Linked DNA regions of Homo sapiens. The protein of the gene in region 1 purifies or fractionates together with the protein of each later gene. This does not show direct contact. Each region holds a gene or a part of one and is shown in the gene's direction. Other genes may lie near its edges.

Region 1 (3,826 bases):
CATGGCCTCAAATAGACCACAAAAAGTGGGAAAATTTAGTCTTCCTGCTGGCCTAAGAGCAAAAAGATGTGCTTTGGTGAATACATAATAATATCTCCTCCAAAGAAATATGCACACAGATTGTATGATTAATATTTCTCTCTATTTACTAGTAAACAAGTCATCTTCACTTCACTAAACATTTACTCTGAGCTAGGTATTATGCTAAATACTTGATATATTTTATCCAACTGAGTCCTCAGAGCAATCTTGGGAAGTGAATTTTAATTATCCTCATCTCCCACTTTCCAGATGAGCAAGCAGAGGCACAACGTGGTCAAGGGAGTTTTTCACGGCTGCACAGCTACGTAATGTTCAGACTCAAGATTTGAATCTAGTTTCTCCCAAGACAGAGGTGAAGAGCTACTAGTGATCAGATAGAGAACAATGAGTGCTTGGCAAGCTGGAGCTTCTTGCATTGTCAGTTACATTAATCTAGAAGGATGTGGGACCCTCAAGCTGTAATCAGCAGATTTGACGAGGGGGTCATGGCCCATGAAATGGTGGAGAGTGGGAGTTGCATCCCGGCTGAGGATCACCTGCACAGGAGACCACAGAGCATTTGGCAGCCATAGCCCCTGCCTTCCAGCTATGTCCCAGGCTCCAGTCTGGGTATTTCCTTGGCTCTGGGTCCAGAGGCTGTGGCTCCCACCTTAATACCGAACAACAGAAAGTCTGGAACTGGAGAAACACAGTTCTTAAGTCTGGGGTGATTGGGTAAACCACCCTAGTCAAGGTGGAAGTCAGCTGATGAACCTGTCCATCCCCCTGGCAGGTGGTCTTGCTTCCCCTGATAGAAGTCTCCATGCTCTCTGGCTGGATTAAATATCACGACTACTTCTCAAAGCCCCATCACTTCATTTCTGTCTCTCTGACCTTTTTGTCTTGCAACCAACTTCCTGGCAGAGGCTCCTATGGTCAGGTGCAGAGGAATGAAATGGTCCATGAGGCAAGAATCCTTAATCTCAATGGCACTTTGAACTCATCTGGAGCAGCTGCTCTGAACCTCTGGCCTCAGGAAAATCAGTGGCTCAAAAAAGGAAGAAATTCCCCTTTTATCTTTCTGCTTTAGGGTGAGGACTGTTTCCTCAAAGGATTGCTAGAGAAGCCAGGAGGAACCCAAGACACTCTGGTGGTGGGTGATTCAGTTTTAAGCAGTGGCAACAAAAAGGACATGGGTTGAATTTTGCCACTGCCACTCACCCTGGTGTGTTGGGGCCACCTGATAATCCTTGCACTGCAAGATAGGCCCTATCTACTTACAGGGCCACTTATGACTTATCTTGTAGTAAGCTTAGAGAGAGTAAATGTGAAAGCATTCCTAAAACTCTGAAGTGCCATGCAATGGAGGGTGCTAATAATGTTGAAGTGATGCCCTCTACATATGTCTTTCTGGTATAATTTCCTAATTCACTTACTGTGTGTACTAAGAATCTCCTCCAATCTAACTTTGCTAACTGCAGTGCCAGTCTTTTCGGCTGGCCTAGGGGAGGTGCTTATGGCAGCCTGAGAGGGCCAAGGTGCAGGTCATGGGGCAGTTCTGTCCAATCAAAAGGCTTCCTAGCAGACAGTGCCGAGGGCCATCCTGCCCACTCCTCTGACCTCACAACGCTCCTGAGAGGAGGATGTGGCGAGGCAGCGAGTGTAGTGGAAAAAACTTGGACTGAGCATGGAGAACTGGGTTTGGATGTTGTTTCATCCACTCGTGACCTCTGTGAGTCTGGACAAGAGTTACCTACAAGAGTGGAGTATTAGGACTTATCTAACAGTGCTTTGTAAACCATCAAGTTGGATACAAATAGCATGTTTTCATGGCAGAAAATTAAGTCAGCGAAGCACATTTTCCCAAAGTCAAAGAGTAAATCAGTGGTCACACTAGACTAGACTTCAGTCTGCTAGCTCAGGGCTCTCTCTAGGAAAGAATGACCGACCACCCAAATTCCCCCGACCAACAGCAGTCTACACACCTGAGGATATCAATCACCTTACAGGTAATGGAAACTGGGTTTAATAACCCACTGGAAAGTTCAGTATTCAAAGCCGTAAATGTTCTGAGGCCTGAGGAGACACATTCATGGTACCGAATTCCAGGAACTAAACTTCCAGTATTGTCAAATCCACAGATCACTCCAAGACCATTCCACCTCTCCATTTGGCATCACTGAACAGTGTTGAGACACACAGGATCTTTGTAATAAACACATAACATCACAACAATGCACATTTATTTTATTTTTTCCTTAGATTTTCAATGGGAATCTGGTACAAAAGTTTTCTTGTCTGTGGGGCTCACTAGGACCATGCGTGGCACGAATGCAGTGGGCAGCTGTGCCCTCACCATCGGCCCCCAGCGTGCCTTCTTGTCAGCTTTTGCATTGTTTTCTCTGAGCATTTAGAGAACATGAAGGTTACTGGGCTTCTAATGAATTCTTGGTCATAAGTAATTGCCAATTTAGTGTGTGGCATTTTTAGTATTTAGCCAATTTAGGAATCCTAAAATCATAAAATATGGTTGTTAAATTCTTTGACTCCAGGATTTAAAAAAAAAAAAGGTACTTCATAAATTCCATCTGCCTAAGTTTTTGCAGGCAGAGGATTTTGGAACTCTGTTGTATCAAGGCTTTGTTATTGTTCTTTGCTTTTGTTTTTTAAAGGGGGACTAACAGACGGCATCATCTGTGAATCACCAGACACCTGGAAGGGAAAGGACCTCCTTAGGATCCCTCATGAGCTGTACCAGCCCTGCCCTCTTCCTGCTCCTGATCCAGTGTCCTCGCAGGCTCAGTGGCCCGGCTCTGCCCACGGTGTGGTCCTGAGGCCTCCTGAGAACCACAACGCGGGGGAGCGAGAACTCTTGGAGTGCGAGCTCAAACCCAAGCCAAGGCCGGCCAACCTGCGTCATGCCATTGCCACTGTCATCATCACTGGCGTTGTGTGTGGGATTGTGTGTCTCATGATGTTGGCAGCTGCCATCTATGGCTGCACCTATGCGGCAATCACAGCCCAGTACCATGGGGGACCCTTGGCTCAAACCAATGATCCTGGGAAGGTGGAAGAAAAAGAGCGATTTGACAGCTCACCAGCCTGAGAGCTTTTGTCTCAAATAGGATTGGTCATTGCAGGCCAGAAGATAGTGTCTGAGTAGGGCTGATGTGTTTCCTGTTAGTCTGATTTTGCTTTTGCCAAAAGACAAAAAAAAAAAAAAAAAAAAAAAGAAAAAAAAAAGATGTGTCTGTAAAAAATATTTCTGGGGAGGAATTTATGTTGCGATTTTTAAAATACTATAGGTAAAATAAAGATGATACTTGTGCTCTGGGCCTGGGAAGTTATTACGACGATTCTATGTGGGGGTAAGACACACACAGAGAAAGGGAAGATGCCATCTCTTCCAGGTACTCTTCTGTGGATTAAGTTCCTTTTACAAAGCACCAGAAATTCAAACACACATGCCAATCAGCATTCCTGGGAGCTTTATGGTCCACTGGAAAACTGCCCAATTTTGAGTGCTTGGGAAGAGGCTGGTGATCTTACCCGATGGGCATTGAATGCCTCTATAATTCGAGTTCATGCTAGATCAGTGATACTTTTAGATGTTGTATATGTTATAAATTTAGTGGAAGCTGTTGGTTGGGAATTTCATAGCTTGCCACAAGAGTCAAAGTCTATTTCATTTTCTAAATCAGAAAACCATTTGGGGCTTTCTAGGCCTCAGAGGAAGAAGAAGATTCCATGTCCGGATAATAGGACTCAGGCCCTGAGTCTGGGGAAGTTTTCTGATGCAAGGGTA
Region 2 (3,826 bases), on another chromosome or scaffold:
ACCCTTGAGCCGCTTGCTTGGGCCCACTCCCACCCCATGGGGTGCTTTCTTGCTTCAGTATCCCTGCTTTCGCTGCTTCATTCCTGTGTTTCGTTCCTTTTGTGCAGTTCTTTGTTCAAAATGCCAAGGAACTGGACACCTCACACTCATGACCTTCCTTCCAATAACAACAGTAGCAAAGATAAGAAATCAACCTGAGTGTCCATCAGTGAATGATTGGATAAAGAAAATGTGGTATATATATACACCGCGAAATTCAGCCATTGAAAATGAAATCATGTCCTTTGCAGTAACTGGAGGCCATCATCTTAAGTGAAACAACTCCCAAATAGAAAGAAAAATACCACATGTTCTCACTTACAAGTGGGAGTTAAATAATGTGTACACGTGGTGATGGAAAGTAGACTGATATTAGAGGCTTAGAAGGGTTGGGGAGTAGGAGTGGGTAGATGATGAGAAATTGCTAGGATCATTGTACATTATTCAGGTGATAGATACACCAAAACCCCAGACCTAGTCACTAAATAATATATCCATGTAACAAAATTGCATTTGTACCCCTTAAATTTATACCATTTTTTTAAAAAAAAGGAAAACAATATGTCTTACAGATAACAGAAGCTGTGAGTTACTGTAAGAATGCTGATTTCCACATCTTTCATGGTATAAGTCAACCTACATTGTGTAAAATGGAATTATGTAGCTTTTAAGTGACTCCGATCTCTTAATATACGTATAATAATTTTTCTTAATTTTAGAATAATTTTTGAGGAACTAAAATTGCTTTTTGTCAAGAAATTTCTCCTCCAGAGATGAGCAGTTTATTTAGTTCACTTTGTTTTCTTTTTCTTCTGTTGAATTCTCTTATTAAAAATAACATGTCTAGTGTGATCCTATTGTTATAATTTGAATTCTGACCTTGTTGCTTACTACCTGTGTGACCTTAGTCAAATTATGTGAGTCCATTTCCTCATCTATAACTGGGCATTTTATTTACTTCACAAGATGGTTGTAAGGATTAAAATATGTACACTTGTCCCTAGTATCTGTTGGGGATTGATTCTAGGATCCCCCTTCAGATACCAAAATCCACAGATGCTTAAGTCCCTCATATTGTATGACATAGTACTTGCATATCACCTGCACCCATACTCCCATATACTTTATCTCTAGATTACTTATAATACCTAATACAATGTAAATACTGTGTAAATAGTTGTTATACTGTATTGTTTAGGGAATAATGACAAAAAAAAGTCTGTACCTGTTTAATACAGATGCAAACATCTTTTTCCCCTAAATATTTTCAGTTCTTGGTTGGCTGAATCCTCGAATATGGAATCCACAGAAGGCTAACTATACTTAAATGACCTAGCCCACTGCCTTAAACTCAGTGTCTGCTCAAAAGAGAACAGCTATTACTATTTTTTAAATTCAGATTGTATATGTGCATGTCCTTCTTCAGTAATGTACTTTTAAAAATCATCAGTATATTCTGTTTCAGTGCTCTATTTATTATTTACATCTTTTAAAAAGTTACTGAATTTAAATTATCTGTTTATTATGTAAAGTGTTCTACAATGGACTTTTCTCAGGTTTGAACTTGTTCTGGAAGCTGTGCGTCACCGTAATGAGGCTTGTAATTCTTGATAACTATGACTTGGCTAGTGAATGGGCAGCCAAATACATCTGTAATCGCATCATTCAGTTCAAACCTGGACAGGACAGATATTTTACACTGGGTTTACCAACAGGTAATTAACTACTTTTTCCATTTTATATTCTGATATTATCTAAATTTAATTCTGATGGAATTGAAGGGTTTCTTTTAAGATACTTTCCCCATTCATTTATTGGCATGTCACTAATTGAACATCATAGTATAAAAGGCCAGAAAAATGCATATATATAAAATCTACTATCTACAATGTGTTACTAGTTCTTGTGCCAAAATTTAGTCTCACCTGTCACTCCAAAATGCAATAGGAAATATTGTAACTTAAGTGTTGTTCATATTTTTTGTACATTTTTCTAGTAGTCCTTTGTTTTGGGGAACATTGCTTTTACCATTCATACCAGTTTTTAGTTGATTGGCTTTCTTATTAATCATTAAGAGGTACCTAAGGTATGTACTGTTGCCTCTTAATTTAACTTCACCTGCCTTATAAATCCTTATTAATATAGAAGTTATAAATTATATATTATATAATGTTTATTAGCCTTTTACTATTTGCTTCTTCTATTATAGATGTATTACAAGTGAAAAATATATCTTCATCACAGTAATTACATATTTTATTGAATTCAGTTTTCCATTAAGCATTCTCTTAAAAAACGACTAGGTGGTGTCATTTGATCTTATGGCACTTTATTTGACCCATGATTTTCACAGAGTGTTAGACCTGGAACTAAAGTTGCTCCTTATTGACTACAAGGCATTTGTTCTATACCCCTGAGCCTTGGTTTCCTTACCTATAAGAAAGATAAGGATAATAACTTAAGATGCTGTTTTGAGATTCAGCTAAGATAGTGTATGTGTAAGTCCCTTGTATACTGTAGTCTATAAATTTATAGTTCCCGTGTGTTTTATTTAAACAGACTGTTTTCTCCAGCTCCTCCCCTCATACATGGTAATTACATAAAAACTACAATTGTAATTTTTTCCCACTTGAGTAATTTCCGTGAATGGTACTCTTCAAGTTGATTGTTTTGTTTTGCTTTTTCTCTTTTGGTCCAGGGCAGTAGATCTTGGTGAGAATGGCAAAAGGGTTTTTTTTTTTTCACTGGACACACCAGTACTACACCCCCAGCACCCTCAGTTCTGATATGTGACCCCTTGGGGTTGAACGTGGTTTCTGTATAGTTTCTATACTGTTACCCTTCATTACACTCAGCCTACCTCTGTTAATAACATTGTGTTAATTATGATGCAGAAAAAAACAGTAATTTGAGTGGGGACAGAAAGACTTAGTCTTAAATGTCAGCAGTGCTAAACATCTTTTTGTGTATTTAGATCTACAACGTTTGCTTTATTTTGGGTAGTATAACTGCTAGTAATATACCTGCCAAGTGAGGATCTCTGGAAAACCTTGTTGAAATTTTCCATTACTCTCCTTCATTGACCATCGACAAGTTAATTATGTCCTCTTCCCCCACTGCTTCTGAGACTTGAACATACATGTCGGTAATTGCTTGTACCAGGCTGCATTGTAATTATCTCCCTATCAAGCGCAATTTCTGGGCAATATCTGTTCAATTTTATATTTACTCACGTGACCTTAATGAGCTTGACATTTAAAGGCCTGCATGCTGTGAACCTGATCTGCTTCCCAAAACTTATTCCCACCATCTCCTTACACAGAACTGGGCTAGGCATATTTGACTGCTTGCAGTTCAAGAATAGGCTTGAAGTTGCTGGCTGCTTTGCTTTGCTTTGCTTTCACTCATATTCCTAGCATGTTATTTAATGGAATCTATATGAACTCTGGCACCAGACCTATCTAGATTGGAATCCCTGGTTTCACAGCCATATGACATTTGGCAAATTCCTTAATCTTTTTGACCCAGTTATTTTGTCTTCAAAATGGGAAAGATAATGCCAGTTTCTCAAGATTGTGAGCTTTATGTGAGGTAATATATAAAAACATTAGCGCAGCATCTAGCCACATGGTAGACAGATGTCATCGTTGAACCTCCCGCTCCATCTTTTCTCTGCTCTGAGTTAGTTTCCTCTTTGTTGAAAGTGTATCCCTTAATCAAGACTGAATTGAAATGCCATTTTCTTTTATTGTTCTTCCAACTCGCAAGATTGTAGTCTTTTTTATTT

What was found.
Region 2: the proteins of LRTM1 (region 1) and GNPDA2 purify together in Homo sapiens (affinity purification with mass spectrometry; one large-scale study listed by BioGRID and IntAct). This does not show direct contact.

The regions. Positions count from the first base shown.
Region 1 is NC_000003.12:54,917,760-54,921,585, reverse strand, and holds the end of LRTM1 (leucine-rich repeat and transmembrane domain-containing protein 1 isoform 1 precursor), read left to right. Parts: intron 1-2,693; coding exon 2,694-3,127; 3' UTR 3,128-3,355; downstream 3,356-3,826.
Region 2 is NC_000004.12:44,720,012-44,723,837, reverse strand, and holds part of GNPDA2 (glucosamine-6-phosphate deaminase 2), read left to right. Parts: intron 1-1,595; 5' UTR 1,596-1,630; coding exon 1,631-1,754; intron 1,755-3,826. UniProt on the Homo sapiens protein: Catalyzes the reversible conversion of alpha-D-glucosamine 6-phosphate (GlcN-6P) into beta-D-fructose 6-phosphate (Fru-6P) and ammonium ion, a regulatory reaction step in de novo uridine diphosphate-N-acetyl-alpha-D-glucosamine (UDP-GlcNAc) biosynthesis via hexosamine pathway.